Linked DNA regions of Homo sapiens: regions 2 and 3 are each linked to region 1. Evidence: fine-mapped expression QTL. A gene starts in region 1. Each other region holds a variant in brackets. All regions are shown on one strand. Distances are from middle to middle. Region 1 holds the start of FANCL (FA complementation group L). Region 2 has its middle 95 kb from the start of VRK2. Region 3 has its middle 200 kb from the start of VRK2.

What was found. PIP is the estimated chance that this variant, and not a neighbour inherited with it, causes the effect.
Region 2: its variant is the best candidate, but not a certain one, in a credible set for the expression of FANCL in monocytes (BLUEPRINT, PIP 0.55).
Region 3: its variant is the best candidate, but not a certain one, in a credible set for the expression of FANCL in whole blood (INTERVAL, PIP 0.63).

What each region holds. Positions count from the first base shown.
Region 1 is chr2:58,237,293-58,245,480 of GRCh38, reverse strand. FANCL (FA complementation group L) reads left to right here and starts at 4,156. Exons shown (of 14, transcript NM_018062.4): 1 at 4,156-4,263. The coding sequence starts at 4,168. RefSeq lists an enhancer at 3,809-3,968 and a silencer at 4,509-4,558.
Region 2 is chr2:57,947,947-57,956,138 of GRCh38, reverse strand. It overlaps a transcript of VRK2 not described here. Among named protein-coding and RNA genes, the nearest start is that of VRK2, 95 kb to the left of the region's middle. The variant A/G (reference allele first, on the strand shown) is at 4,367.
Region 3 is chr2:57,846,901-57,855,092 of GRCh38, reverse strand. No RefSeq gene overlaps it. Among named protein-coding and RNA genes, the nearest start is that of VRK2, 200 kb to the left of the region's middle. The variant G/A (reference allele first, on the strand shown) is at 5,028.

The sequences.
Region 1 (8,188 bases):
AAAAAGTACAAAAGAGCTGTTAATCTCTCTAATCAGTGGCTTTCACTGGGTGTGGGGATGGTGTTTCTTGGGAAGAGGGTCTTCGTGCTTTGCTAAGAAGAGGGTTGTTTAATAATCTGGATTCTTCTATACTTTTAAACGGCCCGTTTACATTCTTATCCTTTCTTTAGATGATGACCCCATAAATATTCTTCTGATTCCAGCCCAATCTTTGTAACCCATCAACTCTTTTAGCAGACTTAACCCTTAAATGGTCTTTTGTTTACCTGTAGTTGGGTTGTGGGTACCATTGCTCCTCAAGTCTACAGCCCAGAGTGAAGCAGAAATTGTTATTCTGTACCTGCAATGGATCTAGACTCATTATTGGTAAAACCTACCTACCAAGGGAGTGTGCTCCAAAAGAGTTGGGGTAGGGTTATAGGAGCCAGGTTGTCTTCTCCATATATCACCCTACCAGACTTTGGTCACATAATTAAGTCTTTGTAGTTTATTTCTTATGGATATGGTCTTTTCAAGGCTGAAAAATTATTCACTACATCGCAATTTATAAACTGCTGTTTAGTGCATGGATAGAAAAACAGGCAAGAGCAAACTGATCTTTCAAATTAATAAATGCTTTTGCGTGATCAAATCCAAAGGCCTCTCTATAATTCTCAGTTTTTTCAACCTTTAGGTAGCATTTTACACTCCTGATCATGCCTTAATCTTGACTATCTGCTGTCTTTTCCATTCTATGACACAGTGCCACAGAGAATAGGATATTATTGGCTTGCTTTTCCAGTTTTTTTGAAAACTCTTTTAAATGGCTATTCTTCCTTCACTTTCCCCTAATTTTCATTTTCCCTTTATTTTCACATTTCGCAAGTCTCTTCCTTCATCTTTCTTCTCAGCAGACTCAAACAATCTCTCCTTTATTAATCTTATTAATGTTAATGGCAGGCATCCTATCTTCTTCCATTACTGGTGGGAACTGGGAGAAGAAACTCTTGGGACATGGCTAAACATTTGGGCTATAAAATAAGGATAACAGATGCTAATTGGAATGGTATAAGCATTTTAAATTTTAATTTTTAATTTTAAGACTAATAATTCTCCTTTAAAAAATTAAAATATAAAAGATAAAAGTCTCCATGGGCCATTATCTCCATTCTTTGTTCCCATCTCCCTCCCCTAAAGTAACCATTGCTAGTAATACAGAGCAACTTTACTTATATATTTGAATATAAATGTTATAATAGTAAGCATACCATTCTGGAATTTGTGCTTTTTATTTGTCAAAATGTTTGGATATTTTTCTGTGTTAGAATATAAAGTTCTTCCTCAGGCAATAGCATTTAAATAGTAGTAATTTTTGTGGCAAAGTATATAAATGAAATCCTGCCTAGGATACCTGGTGGAACTTGAACTTTAATGAGGATCTTTGTGCAGTTTGTCAGAGTGATTCCAAAATTGAAATCATGCTGATGGTGGTAGAAGTAGTTCCTTGGCTTTCTGATCTTTAAACATATTGAGCATTTTTGTTTTTTTTTTTTTTGGATTTTGGGGTGGCTGACTTCAACTGGGCTATATATAAATGGTTCCAGCACAACCACGTATGAATTGATGATGGTAGTGAGTATCCAACTTTCAGTCTTGAACACCTAAGGATAATAGTCGAGTAATTGAATTAAAAAGTTTTTATATGGTATCTTACCTTGTTCCTTGGTCATTGGATTTCTTCAATTATAGATTTTATTGATAAGGAATGCTCATTTACAAGTTCAACTATCATAACAGTGACTTGGATGTCTTTTCTTTAAAATCTAAGATGATAAATTAGCAATAAACGTGCTGGAAATCTTTAAGTCTAGTTACCTAATTATGGGGATTCCGAATCAAGGAGCCAACTGCTTTTGGCAAGTGGTCACACTGTCCAGTGTATCAATAGTAAAGGTGAATGTGATGTAAGGTCACAGCCAAAAGACTGTGTTCCAGGAAGTGACTCCTCACCAGACACCAAATCTTGTCCTTGCGTCTTGATTTTGGACTTCTCAGCCTCCATAACTAAGAAATAATTAATTTCTGCGGATTACCTATCCAGTTTATGGTATTCTGCTATAACAACCCAAATTAAGATATTTAGTAAATAATTTATTAGCACCTACGATGCAGCAGGAAATATGCTAAATGATTAGGGAGAGCAATAATTTTCAGAAGATTAAAAAAGCTTTCCAAAAAGACATAGCACTTGAGAAGAACTTTAAAGAAAGGGTAGAAGTTCCATGGGGGAAAGTGTGGTGGTGGGGAAGTTTAACATACTGGATACAATAAAGATCTTAATTCACAGATAAATTATAAAGTGCTTGAAGTAAGGGACTATATGTTCTCTTAATCTTTGTGTTGATCCCACTTTTGCACAGCCTCTACTTTATTCTTATAGGAAAACATGTAGCATGGCCGTCCTTAATTACCGAGTTGCAAAATAAAGCAGGTGTTATGTCCTGCCCCTGCAGAGATCCTCAAACCTTAGCATGCATCAGAATCACCTGGAGAGCTTGTTAAAACGCAGACTGCTGAGCCCTATTGCCAGTGTTTGGGATTCCCGAGGTTTGAAATAGGGGCCTGTAGGGAATGAGAAACATCTTTCTTTCCTGTTGCTAGATTCCTGTTTGAGTCCCTTATAAGAAAAGACAGATTAATAAGAGAAAAGCGTGCAAATTTATTTAAGTTTTATGTGGCATGGGAGCCTTCAGAGATGAAGCCCAAAGAAACAGGAAAACCTGTGCATTTTTAGAAGGAACAGTGGACAGTTGTGGGGAAGTACGGTTGGACAAAGCATGGTCTAATGGTAATAAACTGGGGTAAGTTGTCAAAGGTCTTTTTGTTCAGATTCTTTTCTATGTCTCCGTTTCTTTAGAGATAAGGATATTTCTTTCCTGTGGGTATAGGAAGAGCACCTCTGGATTGAGGATCCAATGACCCGCCTCAGGGAAGAAGGATGGGAGAAGGTCAGAGAGTGATCTTAGGTTTTGTTGTTTTCTCAAATGTCAAGGGGCCATATTTTGGGGTAGCATATCCTGAACCCCATCAGCGGTGAAAACTTGTATTTCTACATAGTTCCCAGGTGATGCTGTTGCTAGGTTCTAGGATCACGTTTTGAGAACCACTGCTTTAATGTAATTTATATCTAACCACTGCTCCAGCATTCTTTTCTGTAAGCATCCAGAATGCTGTGACAAATTCTTGTCAAACTTTAAGAATCTTCAGGATGTCAAATTCTGTCTTGAGGTCAATAAAGATGGGTAGGGGACGAAATAATCTTTGCTCAACCTTTGGCACATTACAATGATGTTTTTCAAATAGTAGGGCTCAAACGTGATGCATTGGAAAATTGGAAAATTGGAAAATCAAATAATCATATGGTAAATATTTTAGTAGGTTTCTTATTTAATCAACTCTTAATAAGATGGGATGGATAACATTCCTGAGTTAGAAAAACATATTGCAAGCGCTGTCAGAGGAAAATTAAGTTCAAGTCCATCAGCAATCTTTACTCATGTTTTGCTTTATATATTTGTGAGTGCCGTACACAGAACTGAGTCCAGTGTTGACTTGAGTCTAATCAATACACATATACGTATACATGTGTGTGCCTCAAATATATCTGATTGAACTTAGTAAGCCACAGAACTGTAATATATATGATATAATCAATGTGTTATACATTATATTACAATAATTATACACAAAATAATACATTATTCTGTATGTTAAGGGAGAGAGGACAACAGCAAAGAAGACAGAGTGCTACAACGTCCAGGCTGTAAAAGTCATTTTATTCTGGAGGAAATGCAACACCAAAGTTGTAACAGTCTTTCAATAAAGTAAAACAGAATCATCGAAAGGGCTCCTGGGACAATTGAGGCTAGAATGATCTTGGTCAGTCAGTCCTGTGGACTTGAGGGCAATCTTCCCTCCCACTACCGGTTGGGGAGCCCTGATGTCGCCTCCCGCAGAGCGCCACTTGGCCTGGCCTGCGCTTCACCTTCATTTCCGCCCGCGGAATCCTCCAGGATCTTCCCGCCAAGGCTGGGGTTTCCGCTCCGCGGCGTCCGAGCGCCAGCGGACTGCGCATGTGCAGGACCCAGCAGGTCTAGAGCTTTTCTGTGTTTCTCCGGACTTCGAGCCATGGCGGTGACGGAAGCGAGCCTGTTGCGCCAGTGCCCCCTGCTTCTGCCCCAGAACCGGTCGAAAACCGTGTATGAGGGATTCATCTCGGCTCAGGTACCCGCCCAGTGGTTGCTTTCTAGCTAAGAGAGCCTCTTGCAGCGTAGCTGCGCGGAGAAGTCTGTGACGGGCTAGGAGGTTAGGGGCCCAGACTTGTGGGGATTGAGAGGGGCGGCGCGTAACGGCTCTTGGGAGACTAAAGGTTTGAGAAGCGCCGCTGTCGCCGCCACCCCGGTGGTCGCCGCGCTGGATGGGGAGCGAGGAGGCGCGCGGCGTGGAGCGGGGCTGGGGCCACGCCTCCTCTCTCCCTAGCCCTTCCCCGAGTTTGGCTTCCTTCTTCGTTCAGTGTCCCGCAATTGACTGTTTTTTAATTTTTTTTTTGTAAATTTTGCCTTAACTCGATTTTAACACCCTCCACCTCCACGGATGTTGATGAGTTCACTCGGGAATCTGGGCTAATTATTTTCGTGTTTCCTGTAGAAAGAACATTTGGGAAGAAAACCTTATTTTGGCCCTTTGCCAAGTCGTATGTACCTGTACACCCACAGTTACAATATCTTCTAGGAGAAGCATGACAGCAATGGAATTAATTAACTTTGCTGATTCCAGTGGCCTCTCATATGGAGTTTATTACACATACTAACACATGTGTAGGGTTTTGAAGTTTACAAAGCGCTTTCCAGGTAAATAGTTCACTTAATCCTCAGCCCTTTGAGGCAGAAATTTTTAAAAGAATCATCATTCCCATTTTCTAGTTGAAGAAATCAAGGTATGGGAAACCGGAGACGTTATTTGCTGATGATCACATCAGAATCCCTTAAACGCAGGCTGTGTGATTTCAGTCCTGGATTTTTTTCTCTTTACATTGCACCAGGATACCTTAGGTTAGGAGTGTAGACTTTTCCTTTCTGACCATTACACTCAACCTTGTGCCCACTTCCCCACCATCACGCATAGTCTTTGAGTATATGTGGAATTACCATATGACCATCACAGAAAGTAGAGGTTAAAAATTCATTATTCCATATGGAAAAAAGTTAATCCACCTTTCCCTCTCCAATTAGAAGTATTCTTCTTGAATTACCTAGCTGAAAATATGATTCTCTTGTAGACAACATTTAGAAAAGTTGAAAAATTTTAAGTTACTTTTTTTTTTTTTTTTTTACAGGAAGCATGTTATACCTAATTTTAGGCAAAATACTGTTATGTATGTCTATATCTGCTAAGGCCTTTTAGGAAACAAGTACACCCATTAGAATTGAGATTAGATGAAAGTTTCTTTTATGACCATTGCTATAGCTAGAATTCCAATTTGTACCTGCCTTAGCAGTTTATTTAAATCTTAAACATTTTACGTGTCTAAAAATATTTTGTATATATTTTAAATTTACAGAAAAGTAGCAAGGATATACAGTACAAGTAATTCCAGTATACCCTTTACCTAGATTCACCAGTTTACATTTTCTCCATTTTACTGATCATTGTTAAGTATATGTATGTGGGTGGGTGTGTATACACATTATTTTCCTGAACCATTTGAGGTCAAATCAGGCGTAGTTCCCCTTTATCCCTAAATACTTGAGCATACATTTCATAAGAACGAGGACACACTCATACATAACCACAGTACAGTGATTAAAATCAGGATATTTAATGATATACTATTATCTAAGATAGAGTCCATATTTCAAATTTTGTTTATGATACAGTTGTATGTTTTATACCCCCATCCCCTACCATCTGTTGTTAAGATCCCACATTACATTTAGTTGTCATGTCTAACCTGGAACAATTCTCAGTCTGTTTGTGTTTTTTATAAGCTAGACATTTTTAAAGAGTACAGATTGGCTGTTAGGTAGAATGTATCTCAATTTGGGTTTGGATGATATTTCCTCACTATTAAATTCAGCTAATGCATTTTTGGCAGGGATACTACAGAAAGATTGTTTTGTCCTTCTCAAGGCTTGTGAGGTTACCTGGTTGGTTCCATTATTAATGATGTTAACTTTGATCACCTGGTTAAGGTATCATCTGTCAGAGTCTCCTTTTGTAATTAATAAGTACTTTTGGGGAGGTACTCTGAGGCATCAAACTTTCACACACATTCTCTGGTTTTAGCGTCCATTGACTTTTGCTTGAGTCGACTATTACTATCACGGTTGCCAAATGATGATTTTCTAACTCTTGTCATTTCTATATTTATGAAGTGGCAATTCATTATAAGGAGTAGCATTGCCTGCTTTCTCATTTATTTAATTATATTAGAATGGATGCATGGACTTTTAAAAAAATTACTTGATTATAATCATTATTTATTTTGATCCTCGAATTGTCCCAGATTTGGCCAGTGAGCAGGTTTTATGTATGTAAGTTTTTAAGGCTTTGCATTTCCTCTCATCAGTGTTTTAAAAGTATCCTATAGATGCTGACATGTAGCCTTATAACCACCATTTTTAGAAGCTATATGATGTCAATTTACTATGCACCTTAATAGGTTGTAAAAATTTTCTCGTGGAAGGTCCTTTTTGGTTTTTAATTTTGTTGCTGATTTCTAATTTTTCTTGTATTGTAATTAGACAGTATTGTTTATAAAAAAGTCTCCATGGAACTTACTGGTACTTTTTCCTGTGACCTAATATGTAATCAGTTTTAGGTGTTGTCTCTATTATCAGATTTTCTCTTTCCTTTTGAGTGAGCTTTGGTAGTTTGTGTCTTTCAAGGAATTTGTTAGTTTCATCTAGGTTTCTGATTTTATTGGCTTAAAGTTATTTACAATAATCCCTTATTATCCTTTTAATGTCTTTAGGATCTGTAATGATGCTCTCTATGTTGGTTATCTTTTGCTGCTATTTACTTCAAACCTTAGTGGCTTAAAACAAAAACAATTATTGTCTCACTGTTTCTGTGGATTTGAAATTTGCGAACAACTTGGATGGTAGTTCTTGATCAAAATCTCTCATGATCTTGCAATCAAGATATTTGCCAAGACTTTGATGGTCTAAAACAGGGTGTCCAATCTTTTGGCTTCCCTGGGTCACATTGGAAGAAGAAGAATTGTCTTGGGCACACATAAAATACACTAATGATAGCTGATAAGCTAAAAAAAAATCACAAAAAATCCCATAATGTTTTAAGAAAGTTTATTAATTTGTGTTGGGCTGCATTCAGAGCTGTCCTGGGCTGCCAGTTGGTCAAGCTAGAGGTGGAGGATTTGCTTCCAAGATTGCTCATTCACATAGCTATTGGCCATGAGGCCTCAGTTTGTTACTGCTCTTAACAGGAGGCCTTAGTTCCTCACCACATGGATCTTTATAGTGTTGCTTGACTGTTATCACACATGGCAGCTAGCTTCTCCTGAGTGTATGATACAACAGAGAGATCAATAAAGATGCACATTCTCTTTAATCTCTTAGTCTCTGAAGTCACACACATTTACTTCTGCTTTATTGTGTTAGATGCAAGTTTCTTAGTCTATATTCAAAAGGAGGGAAATTAGGCACCAACTCCTAGAGGTAGGAGTGTCAAATAATTTATGGATATACGTTAAAAATAGCTTTCATCCTCATATCTGATGTAGGTAATTTATGTCTCATTTTTTCCCCCGATACATCTAGATAGAGGTTTATAAATTTTACTGATTTCTTCAAAGAACCTGTCTTTAATTTCTTCAATTTTTTTCTATTATTTTTATGTTTCTATATGATAGTTTTCTGATCTTAAGTTTCCTGATTTCTTTAGATGGAAGATTATTGATATGAGATCTTTCTTCTATTCTAGTACAGATATTTAGTGCTTTAAATTTTCTTTTGAATACTGGTTTAGCTATATCACACACATTTTGGTGTGCTGTAGTTTTGTTTTTATTCAGTTCCAAATGCCTTTTAATTTCTTCTTTGATCTATGGCTCACTTAGAATTATGATTATCTTTCTCAATATTAAGGATTTTCTAGATATCTTTTTGTTATTGATTTATAATTTAGT
Region 2 (8,192 bases), 290 kb after region 1:
AAAGCGGCATTAGCCACCTCACCTGGCCTGAATACTATTTTTAATGCTGCAGGGTGCTCATTTCTTTTATAAATCTATTGTTATACGTTGAACATATTTGAATGTATTTATTATTAACAGTGAAAATAGGACACTTTTATTTTCAAGTTTATTTCTACATTAAACCAAATTCATCTCTCTAGAAAACCTTCTTTGTTTGTTAACCCTTATTTATAACATCTAATGCAATCTTCCCAATGGTGAAAAACTCACCAAAAGGATATCTGTCCTTGTACCCAAAATAAAATTTTTACTTTTTGCTAAATTATGATCGTAATATTTCTAATGTGCAAAAATTCTCATTGCTAATCTCTCACAGTAAATTTTATTTAAAAAATTTAATTCTATTTTAAGTTCCAGGATACATGTGCAGGATGTGTAGGGTTTTTCTGTAGGTAAATGTGTGTGGTGGTGGTTTGCTGCACCTATCAACCTATCACCTGGGTGTTAAGCCCCACATTTTTTTAAATAGAGAAGATGTTTTTTGATAATTTGTAGTTTAGTATTCTGTGGGAAAATTAACGGTTTTATTCTGTTTTACCTCTGGTTCTTCAGCACTTTCAGATTTTGCTGTCAATTATATTCCATATGTGTTATATCTTTGAAAATTCAGCAAATCTGATGATAATACTTTTTAATGTTTTCTAATGTAATTCCTGATCTACTCTCATTTTTATATTTTGCTATCATTATCAGTGGGATTTAGGGAGTTGGTAGAGATATATTTATGTGTTTGCATATATTTAGATATATGTGTTTGCATATATTTACAGAAATTTCACATTTGCCACATCTTTATATTCTGAAATTATTTGGATATACAGACCTCTTATAATATACATCATTATTTTTCATAGTGTTGAAGATTGCATTATGTGGTATTTAAGACTCTATGATGGTATTAAATTAATCTTGTTCAAATAATATTAATTGAAGTTTACTCTGTTCAGGAGACAATGTTGAAACAATGCTCTTCATTTCTTTCCTCATATCTTCTATCCTATTCTAGGCCATAAGATGTTCTTCACCAATTCTTATAGGCTGTCTCTGTTACCCCATGTCCTAGTTTTGGTAAATATATCATAAACATTTTTTAATAGTCCACCATATCTATGCTTTATACTTAATTGGGGGAAAATATCAAGTTAATTTAACATCTCCAATAATCTACATAATTTCCAGACATAAACAATGCACGGCTTCTTTTTTCTGTGAGATTCTATCTTTCTATGTTGCTGACTTTTGTGTAAAAATTGGTGGCACTCTCAGTAGGCAATGTCTTACCTTTTCTTCCCGAGTAGTGATGATAAATTCACCCTTACATATTGAGATACATTTCAAGTTCCATCAGGCTCATGATTTTAAAATTTACAGGTGGGCCTGGGCGTATGCAGACTATGATTAGGAAATTGACCCTATAATCTAGTATCATTATTGACATCATCATATAGCAACACTCTGAACTTAGTAACACTAAGTGCAAAGATGAGATAAACCCTATACTTTTAGTATATTGAGTTTTAGGAACTTTTTTATTTCCTAAAAGATGTAACTTAGCTTAAGAAAAAAACACTGCATATTGAAGATTCAGCTTTTGCAGAATGGAAAAAAGAAAACATTAGACTGGTAGGAGTCAAGAAACAACATGTTGAATTGAGTCTGGTGCTAACTGAATGGTTTTGAGGAGGGCAGTTAGCCTATCTGGACCTTTGTTTCCTCATATTTAAACTGAAGGGGTTGGATGAGGCGATATTTACTTCTTCTTGCATACAATTTCCACTGTATAGAACTCAGTTTGAATAGAATCAAATCCATAATGAGGTCATATGGATTACTTCCTTCAGTGGCTTAAGATTTCTAGATGATTTGGGTAAAAATAAGTATTGCATAATATTTCTGGTCTAGTGTTGAAAAGCCCACTAAATGCAAGTTTATGAAAATCAACTTTTCATAAACCCTCAAATTAGTAAGAAGTAAATAAAAGATGGCAGAAATATAAATATGTAGAGTCAAATAGTGAATTTACCAAGGGGCTACAGTGTTCTAAACACTGAAACAAGTGCTGGAATGTTGGGAGGACATGGTGGTGAGATGGGAGAGGCATAGGAGAATATAACATGGGAAAAGAAGTTTTGCCAGGGAAAGACCGAATTCAAGCTGTTATCTTAAGTAATATTATCTATTATTAACTTTTTTGTGATACGATTTTATTCAGTTTTTTTGAAGAAACTTTTTACTTATAAAAATTCAGATTAATATAATAATATCAGTTCATTTTAATTTTTTTATAATGCACAAAGTATGGAATATAGAGTCCGAAGGACTTTTTTTTTCCCTCTCTTCATTCTGGGCATCTTAGTGGAAATGTCTTCCTCTGATAGCGTGGCCATCAACATGTTACTCTTCATAGCTCACTTTAAAAAAATATATTAATGAGAATTATATTTAACCTTCCTACATCACAGAAATAGCATGAAAACAAGTAAATGACTGTATGTAAAAGATGAATACAGGAACTATAATAACTACCTTAATAAGCAGAAAAGTGTTTAAGTGTATAACTGCAGTTCTAATATTTTTTCATAATTTAATAACAATTTTCATATTTTATGGGATACACGCAAAGTGATTTCCCTTTTTTAATTACTGGAACTACCTAGTTCATTCCTAGGCTAATGAACCAAAAGAAAAATGCCCTATCAATAGTTAGAATCTGTATTATAGATATGGAACAATGAGGAAAGTAGTGACAAATCCATCATAAAGATATGTTATGACAAATGCTCAAAATGAGCCTAGATGCAGAAAAAGTGCATTACAATCAAGACAAAAGTAATCAGCATCAATTCGAACAAATCAGATAAGAGCAAAAGTGATCTCTGTTTCTCCTTTATAAGCAGGTCAAAGCTGGCAACAGAGATGGGAAAGTAAATATGTAGTACTATTAGTTTCTGGATCATCATCTTCTGAAGTTTTGAAAAAAGGAATATTCTGCTCCCTCTTCTCCTCCTCACCTTTTGTCTTTAAGGTTTCTCAACTCTGAGCTGCTTGGCTATAATTTGCATAAAGTTATCATGGCCACACATCACTCTGTCCTTGGGGAATGTAACAGATATGCATCATCCCACGACATCTGACGAGAAGCTCAGAAAATGAAGTTGGTGAAGGTATCATTGTCTTCTAAGTCAAGGCCCAGGTTGTCAGAAAAAGTGAGGGTGGCACATCCACAGTCAAATCCATGGCAGACTTTAGGTTTCAGTGGAGATGGCCCTGGCTTTCACCCAGAAGTCTTGGGTTGGGTTTCAATTAACAATGCAATATTTGACATCCCTCTGTTTTTTTTTTTTTTCATTTTCAGTTTCCTCATCTGTAGTAAAGATAACACCTGCTCTCCCCATCTCCTTAGGTTATTTTGAGAGGCAAATGAGATCATGTATCCGAGAATACTTACATAAATGTTACTTTAATTCACTTTTATGTGTGTATCCTTGCTTTATGAACAATGTTTCTTCCAGGTAAGGATATGTATGTTCAGGATATATACCTAGTAAAATTCCTGGCACAGAGTATTTGTTAAATGTTTGTTGAATCTGAGTGAACCTGAAGCAACTTGGAAAAACCAGAGTTTGGAAGAAATAACAATGAAGCGAGCCAAAATGTTAATTCCCTCTTTCGTTTTTGTTATCTCCTTTCTTTCTTCTCTTTAATCTCTATTAAGATCTCTAAAAATATGGAAGATTTTACTTTTCAAAGGAGAAGACATTGCATTTCCCTTTCCTTATGGGTATTATCAATTTCTCTCTGCCTTTATACAGGCATACCTTGGAGGTGTTGTGGGTTTTTTTCCAGACCACCAAAATAAAGTGAGTCACACTAGTTTTTGGTTTCCCAGTGCATATAAAAGTTATGTTTACATTATACTGTGTCTATTAAGTGTGCAATAGAATTATGTCTCTCTATCTCTATCTCTATCTCTCTCTCTCTATAAATATAAATTAAGGTATAAATATATAGATATATATGTCTTAATTTTAAAATACTTGCTGAGTGTAGTGGTTCACATCAGTAATCTCAGCTACTCAGGAGGCTGTGGCGGGAGGATCTCTTGAGGCTAGTAGTGCAACACCAGCTTGAGCAATAGTGAGACCTCCTCTCTTAAAAAAAAAAAAAAAAAAGGAAGGAAAAAAAATTACCTGGGCATGGTGGTATGCTTCTGTAGTTTAAACTACTCAGGAGGCTGATGTGGGAGGATCACTTGAGCCCAGGAATCTGAGGCTGCCATGAGCTATGATTGCCCCACTGCACTCCATCCTGGGCAACAGAGACC[A/G]CAACTCAGAAAAAAATGCTTTATTGCTTAAAACTGCTAACAATCATCTGAGCCTTCAGCAAGTCATAATTGTTTTGCTGGTAGAGGGTCTTGCCTCAGTGTACATGACTGCTGATGATGACAGTGATAGTGCTGAAGATTAGGGTGGCTGTGGCAATTTCTTCAAATAAGACAAAGTTTGCAGCATCAATTGACTCTTCTTTTCATTAAAGATTTCTCTGTGTCTTGTGAAGCAGTTTGATAGCATTTTACCTCCAGTAGAACTTCTTTCAAAATTGGAGTCAATCCTCTCAAACCCTGCTGCTACTTTATAAACTAAGTTTATGTGATATTCTAAATCTTTTGTTGTCATTTCAACAATATTCACAGTATCTTCACTAGGAGTAGATACTATCTCAGGAAACCACTTTCTTTGCTCGTCTGCATGAAGCAACTCTTCATCTGTTCAAGTTTTATCATGAGATTGCAGCAATTCAGTCACATCTTCAGGCTCCACATTTTATTCCAGTTCTCTTGCTATTTCCACCACATCTGCCGTTACTTCCTCCACTGAAGTCTTAACCACCTCAAAGTCATTAATGAGGATTGGATCAACTTTTTCTAAAACTCATGCTAATATTGATATTTATTTTGAACTCCTCCCATGAATCACCAATGTTTATTTATTTATTATTTTTTTTTTGAGATGGAGTCTTGCTCTGTCACCAGGCTGGAGTGCAGTGCTGCAATCTCGGCTCACTGCAACCTTTGCCTCCTGGGTTCAAGTGATTTCCCTGCCTCAGCCTCCTGAGTAGCTGGGACTACAGGCACACACCACCATGCCTGACTAAATTTTTGTATTTTAGTAGAGATGGAGTTTCACCATGTTGGCCAGGATGGTCTTGATCTCCTGACCTCGTGATCCACCCGCCTCAGCCTCTCAAAGTGCTGGGATTACAGGCATGAGCCACCATGCCCAGCCAGATCACCAATGTTCTTAATGGCGTCTAGAATGGTTGATCCTTTACGGAGATTTTAAATTTATTTTCCCCGGATTCATCAGAAGAATCACCATCTATGACAGCTGTAGCCTTACAAAATGTATTTCTTAAATAATGACTTGAAATTTGAAATTACTCCTAGATCCATGAGCAGCAGAATGAATGTTGTGTTAGCAGGCACGAAGACAACATTAATCTCCTTATACATCTCCATTGAGTTCTTGGGTGACAAGGTGGATTGTCAACGAGCAGTAATATTTTGAAAGGAATCTTTTTCTCTAAGCAGTGGGTCTCAATAGTGGGCTTAAAATGTTCAGTGAACCATGCTGTAAAGACTTGAGCTGACATCCAGACTGTTGTTCCATTTATAGAGCACAGATGCAGTATATTCAGCATGATTCTTAAGGGCCCCACGATTTGCTGAATGGTAAGTGAGCATTGGCTCTGACATAAAATCACCAACTGTGTTAGTCCATAACAAGAGTCATCTTGTACTTTGAAGTTTTGAAGCCAGGAGTTGACCTCTTCTCTTTAGCTATGGAAGTCCTAGATGGCATCGTTTTTCAATAGAAGGCTGTTTTATCTACATGGAAAATGTATTGTTTATTGTAGCATCCTGTATCAGTAATGTTAGCTTTATCTGGATAATTTGCTATAGCTTCCACATCAGCACTTGCTACTTCATCTTGCACTTTTATGTTATAGAGATGGCTTCTTTCCTTAAATCTCATGAACTAACCTTTTCTAGGTTCAGGTGTTTCTTCTACAGCTTCTTCACCTCTCTCAACATTCACAGAATTGAAGAGAGTTCAGGTATTGCTCTTGATTAGGCTTTGGTAAGGGAAGGTTGTGGTTGGTTTGATTTTCTATCCAGACCACTCAAACTTTCTTCTTATCAGCAATAAGGCTGTTTCACATTCTTATCATTTGTGTGTTCACTGGATTAGTACTTTTTAAATTTATTTCAAGAACTTTTCCTTTGCATTCACATCTTGGCTAACTGGTACAAGAGGCCTAGCTTTCAATCTATCTGGGCTTTTGAAATGCCTTCCTCATTAAGCTTAATCATTTCTAGCTTTTGATTTAAAGTGACAGACATATAACTCTTCCTTTCACTTGAATGCTTAGAGGCCATTGTAGGGTTATTAATTGGCATAATTTCAATATTATTGTGTCTCAAGGAACAGAGAAGTCCAAGGAGGGGGAGAGAAATAGGAGAATGGCCAGTTGGTGGAGCAGTAAAAACACACACGACATTTATCAATTAAGTTTGCCACTTTATGTAGGCGCGGTCCATGGTGTCCCAAAACAATTACAATAATGATATCAAAGATCACTGATCACAGATCACCATAACAGACATAATGATAATAAAAAAGTTTGAAGTATTGTGACAGTTACCAAAATGTGATACAGAGAAAAGTGAGCACATGCTGTTGGAAAAATGGCCCTGATAGACTTACTCGATGCAGGGTTGCCACAAAGCTTCAATTCATAAAAAACATAATATCTGCAAAGCTTAATAAAATGAAGTGCAATAAAACAGGGTATACCTGAATATAACTTGTAATCATTATCAGAGCCCTTCTATTTTTGCAGAAAATTGTTCTTGACGCTACAATTTTTCCAGCTATTTTCAAATCCTTTTTTCTTCCTATGAAATCTCAATTTGCTGATTGTCTAGTTTAAAACAACTACTTCTATTCCCGCCCCCTGTCCCCCACCACCACTCCCAACTTAATGTTTTGCAATTTTACTTTCATAATTTTACTCTACCACTACTATTCTCAATAGGGTCATCAATGAATTCCTTCTATATAAATTCACAGCCCCTTTTCTAGCTTTACCTTAGTGTTCCTTTCTACTGCAGTTTACTTCATCAGCTTTCCTTTCTTCCTTGCTACCCTTTTCCGCTTAACTTCAATGACACCATAATTTCTTCCTTCTCAGACCTTTCAAAATACTCATTTTGTGTCTCTTTTTCAGGTTCTTTCTGCCCTCTTTTCCCATTAATGGCTATTTTTGGGGTGCTCAACTATGCTTTCTCCTACTTCTCTTTGATCCTCACCTTACCAAGAAAGCTTATGTGGGCTTTATTATTACCAGTACACAGATGGTATCCAAATCTTTCTTCTTTCTAAGAATGTTTCTTATTCTGATCAATGTGTCACTTAAATTTTTTTTTTACCAGCACTTAAAACCCACAAGTTAAGATATTTTATTCATTGGAGAGGCATAACTAGAGGCCATCTAAGGACCAGAAACAAGAAAAGCTTCTTTGCATTAACTATCATATTATCAGGAACTAAATATACATGCCTGCAGAACTGGATACAGCTAAAAATTTTCTTGAAGGCCACTGTTTAGCTTTAAAGATAAACAGAAATGGAAATTTAAATGCACTTGCCTTTCTTTCCTTCCCCCAAATGGCTTATAAATGGTATTGTGCATAGTAGACACTGATGTGGTCAACTAAATAAGTATGGCAGCAGTTAATGAGGACAGAAAGAAAATGTTAATTAGAAGTACTATATAGTGAAAAGCAGACTTTCCTAATGCTGGATCTTTACTTACATAATATTTCAGTGGTGGAGATTTGACCAAGTAGTAACAAGGTTAAGTAAGACAAAATCAGCTTGGTCAGTTTAAAAAGAATTTGAGTATAGCACTTTGAATATAAAACATCCTTGCATAAATGATATTGTTTTAAGTCTAGTTCTGGGAACTTAAATCCTATGACCTCATTTGAGCATGGCTTTGGACACTAGAATTATGAGTTTGTGATGGGTCAGAATTTCTCTTAGAATACATTTTCAGGAGAGAGTACTTAGAGGCTCAGCAATGCT
Region 3 (8,192 bases), 390 kb after region 1:
GGAATGGAATTTTACATAGTCTCAAAGTACCTATTCACAAAATAATTATAACAGAAAACAGTTTCTTTGAAATATGGAAAGCTTGCTCTCATTATGCTCAAAATATTTTCTTTTGCTAAATCTATGTGAATGTGGTCCATCTCCTAATCCAACCAGGACCCTAAGGGGTTGGATGGCCACTGGAATTTCTTTCCATCGCATTTAGACATCCTTCTTAGGCGGATATTGACTGCCATTGGGTTGTCTTGTCCCTCTTTGATGCCTCTTTTTTTATATTTGTAAATATATAAAAACCACCCTTTATTAAATTAAGGTGGGTCCAGTTCTCTATTTCTTTGTTCAAACACACCAGGATCATAGCCTCAAACCAAGAGACTAAAGTATCACATAAAAGGAAAAATATTTTTCAACACCTTTAATATTTAAAGGTCTTTGTTCTGTCCATCTCATTTGAGCATATCAGTTATCTCTGGATCAGTAAAGACATATTTTCTGAAATAAACCATACCTGAACTTTAGTAACTTAAAATACAATCATATTTATAATAACATTTCAGTTAGTTTTATAGGCATTTTGATTTATAATATATAGAAACTTCAAATAATTCTTAGAATTATTAAAACATGTAGCATTTAAATTATTTTAAACCTTGAGCTTAAAAAGCCAAACACTTTTTACCAGGTCCAGCATGTTTATTTTTTAAATAAAAGTTTTTTAAATAATGGAATTTATTTTTATATCTTTATCAAACACATAAATAAGCTGTAGTATATTCATACAATATAATATTATTTACCAATAAGAAAAGGGCTATTGGCCAGGCAGAGTGGTTCACGCCTATAATCCCAGCAGTTTGGGAGGCCAAGGTGAGCAGATTACCTGAGGTCAGGAGTTCGAGACCCGCCTTGCCAACATGGCAAAATCACGTCTCTACTAAAAATACAAAAATTAGCCAGGCGTGGTGGTGGGTGACTGTAATCCCAGCTACTTGGGAGGCTGAGGCGGGAGAATTGCTTGAACCCAGAAGGCAGATGTTGCAGTGAGCCAAGATCGCGCCACTGCAGTGCAGCCTGGGCGAGAAGAGCAAAACTCCATCTCCAAAAAAAAAAAAAAAAAAAAAAGCTATTGATTCATTTTAAAAAGATATGAAGGTACCTTAAATAAATATTAGTAAGCCAGTATTAAATAAATATACAAAGTATGTAAATAAATATACAAAGCCAGTATGAAAAGGCTACATATCTTAAATGATTCCAATTATGTGATACTCTAGAATAGACAAAACCGTAGAAACAGAACTGATCAGTGATCACAACTGATACAGAGATTTGAGGAAAATAGGAATGGTTGAATGGGTGAAAAGGGATTTTTTTATGGCAGTAAAATTATTCTGTATGATATGAAATGGTGGATACAAGGCATTACACATTTGTCAAAACCAATAGAACTGCAGAACAAAGAATGAATTTTGATGTAGCAAATTTAAAGAACATTTAGGAGGTTGGGAGATCAAGGTATAGATTGCAGAAAGTGTCTAAAGAATCTAGCTGTATTACAAATGTATGACACATCCTCACTGAAAGGGATTGGGAGTAAGGTGTTGACCTGAGTACTTATGGAAATAAGTGGAGTCTATAAGACTAAAGGAAAGAGACTGAACGTAAGCACTACACTCTGGTAAATAGAATTACTTCTTTTCAGGGTCTGGATTAACAATTTTGATTTTGCTATGCAGGTATACTGCAATGGAGCAATTAAGTAAATGGATGGCAGATGGTGCAAGGACAGCTTTGTTTCTGTTAGAGTGGGAATCTGCATATAAGCAAGAGGAGGAAGCTAGAATAATCTATGGGGTAATGGATTACACTTGAAGACATTAGTATAAACTCATGTTTAATATAGCTTCATAAAGATATAAATGGTTACATTTAAAAATTTATAGCTATATTTATATACACAGGTTAATACAGACACATGTTTTTTGCTCTGTCAGCTGAGAAGGTTTATAGGAAACCACATACCAGTATCAATGGGCATGCCTAGAGCCCAGGTCTTGGTTTCTAGTGTCGTTCTCCAACAAAAGTAATGAAGGCTTTTTGGAGAAATGTCTTTTTTTCTAAAACCAGGTTAGGAAATACACAAGAGGAACCTGGAGTATTTTGCCTTCCTTTCTCTTCCTTTCCCATCCTTCCCTGCATTGTTTTTTAAATGTTTAAACACAGAAAATATTTGTTATATAATGAGAAAAGAACAAAGTTACAATAAAAGCAATTTCAAGTTAGATGCTTAGGTTTCACTTTTAGATTTCAAACTTACCACTTCCTTGTGTAGGTCTCTGGAACTTTTGGATCGACCTTCAACAAGCCATTGAGAGCCACAGCATTGAGAATCACAACATTGTATGTTTTCACTGGAGAATTAAATATGGCATTATGGGTACTCCAATCCTGATCATGAGTCTACATGAGATAAATTATATTTACAGAAGACTATATGAGGAATATGTAGATCATCCCATGCTCTAGTTAGTCATGGACAAGTATATGACACTTGTGCTACTATTTTCCCTGTCCTGTCCTGTGATTGTGGCAGACATGAATAATTGAGTACAGCTCTTTTTCTAGGCTAAGAAAGTGGTCAGAGTTGGCCCTGGAGATGAAACCTCATTACCATTCCTTTTCTAGCAACTGAGTTATTTTCTTGAGTCAAGCTACACCATCAGAAAGCTGTCTTATATTAATACTTATCCAAACTGATATCCTTTTTAGTGCCTCAAACTAGATCCTGATCAGGCATGTTATAACAAGTTCGTATGTTTATTTTAGTGCAAAAAAAAATTGAAATCCATACATAGTTTTTTCATAATATGTATTTACCATAAACTTTTTGAAGTACTCTTGTATACATATGTATACACACACACACAAATACATACCCCACATTTTCTTTATTTTTTAAAATTTATGGACACAGGTTGATTCCATAGCTTGGCTATGGTGTATAATGCAGCAATAAACATGGGAGTGCAGATATATCTTTGGCATACTGACTTTATTTCATTGGGATATATACCCAGACATGGGATTGATGAATCGTGTGGTAGTTCTATTTTTAATGTTTTGAGGAACCTTCATATTGTTTTCCATAATGGCTGTATCAATTTACATTCTCACCAACAGTGTACAAGAGTTCCCTTTTCTCCACATTCTTACCAAAGCTTGTTATCTTTCTGCTTTTTGATAATAGCTGTCCTAAGAGATGTGAAGTGATATCTCATTGTGATTTTGATTTGCATTTCCCTGATGATCAGTGATGTTGAGGAGATTTGCATATATCTTTTGACCATTTGTATGTCTTTTGAGACATGTCTTATTTAGGTCTTTTGCCCACTTTGTAATTGGGTTATTTGTTTACTTGCTACTATAGTGTCCTTGTCTAATTTTGCTATCAGGGTAATGATGGCCTCACAAAATGAGTTTGGAAGTGTTCCTTCTTCTTCAGTTGTTTGGGAGAGTTTGAGAAAGATGAGTATTTGTTGTTCTTTAAATGTTAGTTAAAATTGATCGGTAAAGCTATCAGGTCCTGGGCTTTTTTTGAGGAAGGAGAAAGTTTTTGATTAATGATTCAGTCACCTCACTCATTATTGGTTTGTTCAGATTTTCTATTCTTTAATGATTCTGTCTAGGCAGTGTATTTATAGGAATTTATTTTTTTTAGGTTATTCAGTTTGTTGACATATAATTGTTGAGAGTAGTCTTTTATGATCATTTGTATTTCTGTGGTATCAGTTGTAATGTCTTCTTATTCACTCATTCATTTAGCCACTCTATCTTTTAATTGAAAAATTAATCTAATTACATGTATATTTAATAATGATAATAAACCAATTTAATTAAGAATAAAAAAATGAAAATCAATGAAAGCAAAATGTGTTCTTTAAAAAGGTCAATAATATCATCTAAATTCTATGCAGACTAACCAAGAAACAAAGAGAAGGAACTAAATTTAATATAAGTAAGGAAAGAAAGAACATCCCTACAGTCATCATAAATATTAAAATGATGCTAAGAGAATACTGAAAGTAAAAATGATGGCAGTGGCAGGCCTTCTGAAGTGGCCGCTGCCAGCACGCCAGCTGCAATGGGGAGGAGTGGGGTGCAGGTGGCAGGAACAGCTGTGCGAGCAGCAGCAGCAGAGACGAGTCCCCTGAGCCCCTTCATCTCTGAGGCACCTGACTGCACTACCCCCACCCTCCCATGGCTGGGCAGGACCCAGTCCCAGGCCTGGAGCCTCTGCTGCAGCCTCCATCTCACTCCCTACCACGTCCCAGGAGCCCACAAGCACCTGCCCGAAGGCACCAAGTTCCTGTACCTCGGGAAGAAGCTCTGTGCGGTGTCGCTGGAGAGTGCATCCCCAGGATCTGCCCTGCATTGAGGTGATCGTCGAGCCTGACACTCCTGACGGCTGGGCCCAGGGCCCATGATCCACTCCCAGAGGCACCCACCCCTGGGCAGGGCCATATGTGGGTGACAGGGAGCCCTGGGCCTCCCCGGACCACTGGGGCCACAGGAAGAACTCATGGTGATGTCACCCCTGCCCTAGACGCCAGCCTGGGCCCAGCCAAAGACCTGGAGCCCCTGCCCCAGGCTGCGAATAGATGAACAGGGAAGCTCTCCAGGACCACCATGACGAAGACCCCCAGAGTTTCCACAACCTGGGGAAGGGCATCTCCATGCAGGACCATGGGTCTTGGGGACAGCAGCCCAGGGAGGCTCCTCCAGGGAGGATACAGCAGGTGCAGACGTGACTTGGACAGCACATCAGTGGCTTCATCATCCACGGAGCAGGAGAGCAGCAGTGGGGCTTGGTGACACTGGACCCTCTGGAGTAAGCTTTGATGTCCTTAGCCTCTGATGGCCAATGGGGCAGCCTAGTCAAGCAGGGCTTCATCATGGTTGCACCCACCTGCACGCAGCCACCAAGCATGGCAGACAGTAGCTCTGCCCTCCCGGGTGCAGCTGCAACC[G/A]CTGAAGCCATGGCTGTGGACCTGGGCACCTCTGCACTTTTGGGGATGTGGGAACCCCCTCCATCCCTGCAGGCCTGAAAGTGCCTCCTCTGGCTGTCTGGCCTCTCCCCATTCCTGGCACCTGCTCCAAGTCTGGAGCAAAGTTGAGGCCAAGCCTGGGTGCTGTTGCAACCTGGCAGGTGTGCACATGCTCTGGGCAGCACTGACATGCCAGCCCCCTGCAACCTCAGCCCCCTCCAGATTTTGAGCACCGACAAGCACTGGGAGGAGGCTGAGAGCAACTTGGCAGCTGGCCTGTAGGTACCCCTTTGCATGAATAGCCTGGGTACCATAAACAGCAGTAATAGGCAGACAAGCTCCTGGATGGAAAGAGGTGGGTCCCCAGTGAAGCCCCACCCTAAAGCCTGGGAAGGCCTGAAGCCCAGGGACCAGGCTGCCAGTCCCATGGACCAGAATGGGAGCCTGTGGTGCTTTTTTCGGGCCCACCTGTGGCCACCCATAGACCAATCAGCACGCATTTCCTCTCCTCTGAGGCCCACTAAAGCCCTGGACTCAGCTAGACTTAAGGAGACAATGGGACAACCAGCCTCAGAGACGAGCTACCACCCCAGGGTCTCCTCTCTGCTGAGAGCTGAACACTTGTCAGGTCACCCTGGGTACAGAGAGGAGCTGCCCCTGTCAGTTTCCTCTTGAGCTGTTCCATTGCTCAATAAATTTCCCCTTTGTCTTGCTCACCCTCTACTTGTCTGCACACCTGATTCTTCTTGGATGCAGGACAGGGACTTGGGAATGGTGGGGCTAAAAAAGCTGTAAACCAAACAGCTGAAATATGCCCCTTGCTTGCCACATTGAGGGTGACAAGAAGGAGAGGAGAGAGATGGAGAGAAGAGCTGCTGCCCTTTTGGGAGCCCAGACCTAGGAGCTCCCCTAGCCAGGAGTGTGACACTCTTTTTAGTGCTCTGTGGTTCCTCACATCTCCAAGCTTCTGGGCACCTCTGCATTCCCCAGTGTCAGACACAGAAGCTGGTTATGGTATACCTGGTCCAGCTGCAGTCTTGCAGGGAGCCAAAACCTATTCCAGTGCCTGGAGCTGCCCACCCCACTGCAGCTGGCATGCCTGGCTGTGCGCAGTAGCCAGACCCCATGCTCACTCACATACCACCTGGCTCGTCCTTTGCAGGTGTGGGATCCAGGCCAGTAGCATGAACCAAGTGCAGCCTGCCAGGCTGAGTCAGTGGAATAAGCCCAGCAGGCCAGAGCAAAACGTGGGCAAAGGCACCACTGACCACAGAGTTTTCCTGCTGGCAAAGCGACACCCCAAGGATTCTGTGACAAAAATATGTACCCATAAATTGATATAATTAAGTGAAACAAATTAGTTTCTTGAAGGATACAACCTACCAACATTTATTCAAGAGGAAACAGACTATCTGAATAGTTTTTTTAATCTATTAAGGAAAGTAAATTTGTAGTAAAAAAATTTCTTACAAGAAAAACTTTAGGTCTTGACAGTTTCATAGTTAAATTCCATCACATATTTAAGGAAGAAATAATACCAATTTTTCTCAATTCCTTCCAGAAGTGTTTTATTTCTTCTTTAAATGTTCTATTTGATATAAAATAATTGTACATATTTTTGGGGTATGTAGTGATATTTTGATTCATATATAGTGATCCAATTGGGGTAATTAGCATATTCATCATCTCAAACATTTATCATTTCTTTGTATTGGGAACATTCTATTCTAAGTATATTTAAAGTAATTGATAGCTAGAGGGACTTACTCTTGCTATTTTATTAAAATTTTCTTACTGTCTTTAGCTTCTTCTCTTCCTCTGTTGCTATCTTCCTTGTGATTTGATTGTTTTTTGCAGTGACATGCTTTGATTCATTTCCCTTTACCTTTTGTATATCTACTAAAGGTGTTTTTTTGTTTGTTTTATTTGGTTAGCATGAGGTTTAAATAAAACATCTCATAGTTGTAACAGTCTGTTTTAATTTTATAACATCTTTGGTTGCATAGAAAAACTATACATTTTTACTGCTCTTTTCATGTTTGTTATTGATGTCACAATTTACATAGTATCATATTATGTATTTATTTACAAATTATTCTACCTATAATTATTCTTAATACTTGCATCTTTTAATTTTATACTAGAGATAAAAGTGATTTGTGTACCATCTTTAAAGTATTATAGTATTCTGAATTTAAGTAAATTCTTACCTTTATAGTGAGTTATAAGCTTGTATACATTTTTATCATGCTAGTTAGTATCCTTTCATTTCAACTTGAACTTTTAAAAAAACTTTTTGATATGGCAGGTCTAGTGGTGATGAACTCCCTCAACTTTTGTTTGTTTGAGAAACTCTTTATCTCTCATTTCTGAAGGATAGCTGTGTAGGGTATAGTATTCTTGGGTGCCAATTTTTTTTTCTTTAAGTACTTTGAATATATAATCTCATTGTCTCCTAACTGCAAAGTTTCTACTGAGAAATATGCATATGTGTAATGAGATTCCCTTCTATGTAACAAGTTGTTTTTCTCCACTACTTTTAGAATGCTTTATTTTTGACTGTTGATAATTTAATTATAGTGTGTTTCAGTGAAGATACCTTTATGTTTAATCTATTTGTGGTTCTTTGGGCTGCATAAATCTGAATATTCATTTCCCTCAGCAGATTTGGGAAATTTTCCATCATTATTTCTTTCTTTCTTTTCTGTTTTTTTTTTTTGTTTGTTTTTTTTTGAAATGGAGTTTTGCTCTTGTTGCCCAGGCTGGAGCGCAATGGCATGATCTTGGCTCACCGCAACCTCCATCTCCCAGGTTCAAACAATTCTCCTGCCTGAGCCTCCTGAGTAGCTGGGATTACAGGCATGTGTCACCACACCCGGCTAATTTTGTATTTTTAGTAGAGATGGGGTTTCTCCATGTTGGTCAGGCTGGTCTCAAACTCCTGACCTCATATGTTTTTACCCTTTTCTCTCTTTCTGTTCCTTTTATGATGTCCATAAAGCATATATTAGTTTGCTGGATGGTTTCCATATGTCCCATTGGCTTTCTCCTCTTTTTTCACTTTGTTCCTCTGACTGGGTAATTTCAAATGACCTGTCTTTGAAGTTGGTCATTTTTTTTTTCTTCTACCTGATCAAGTCTTCTGTT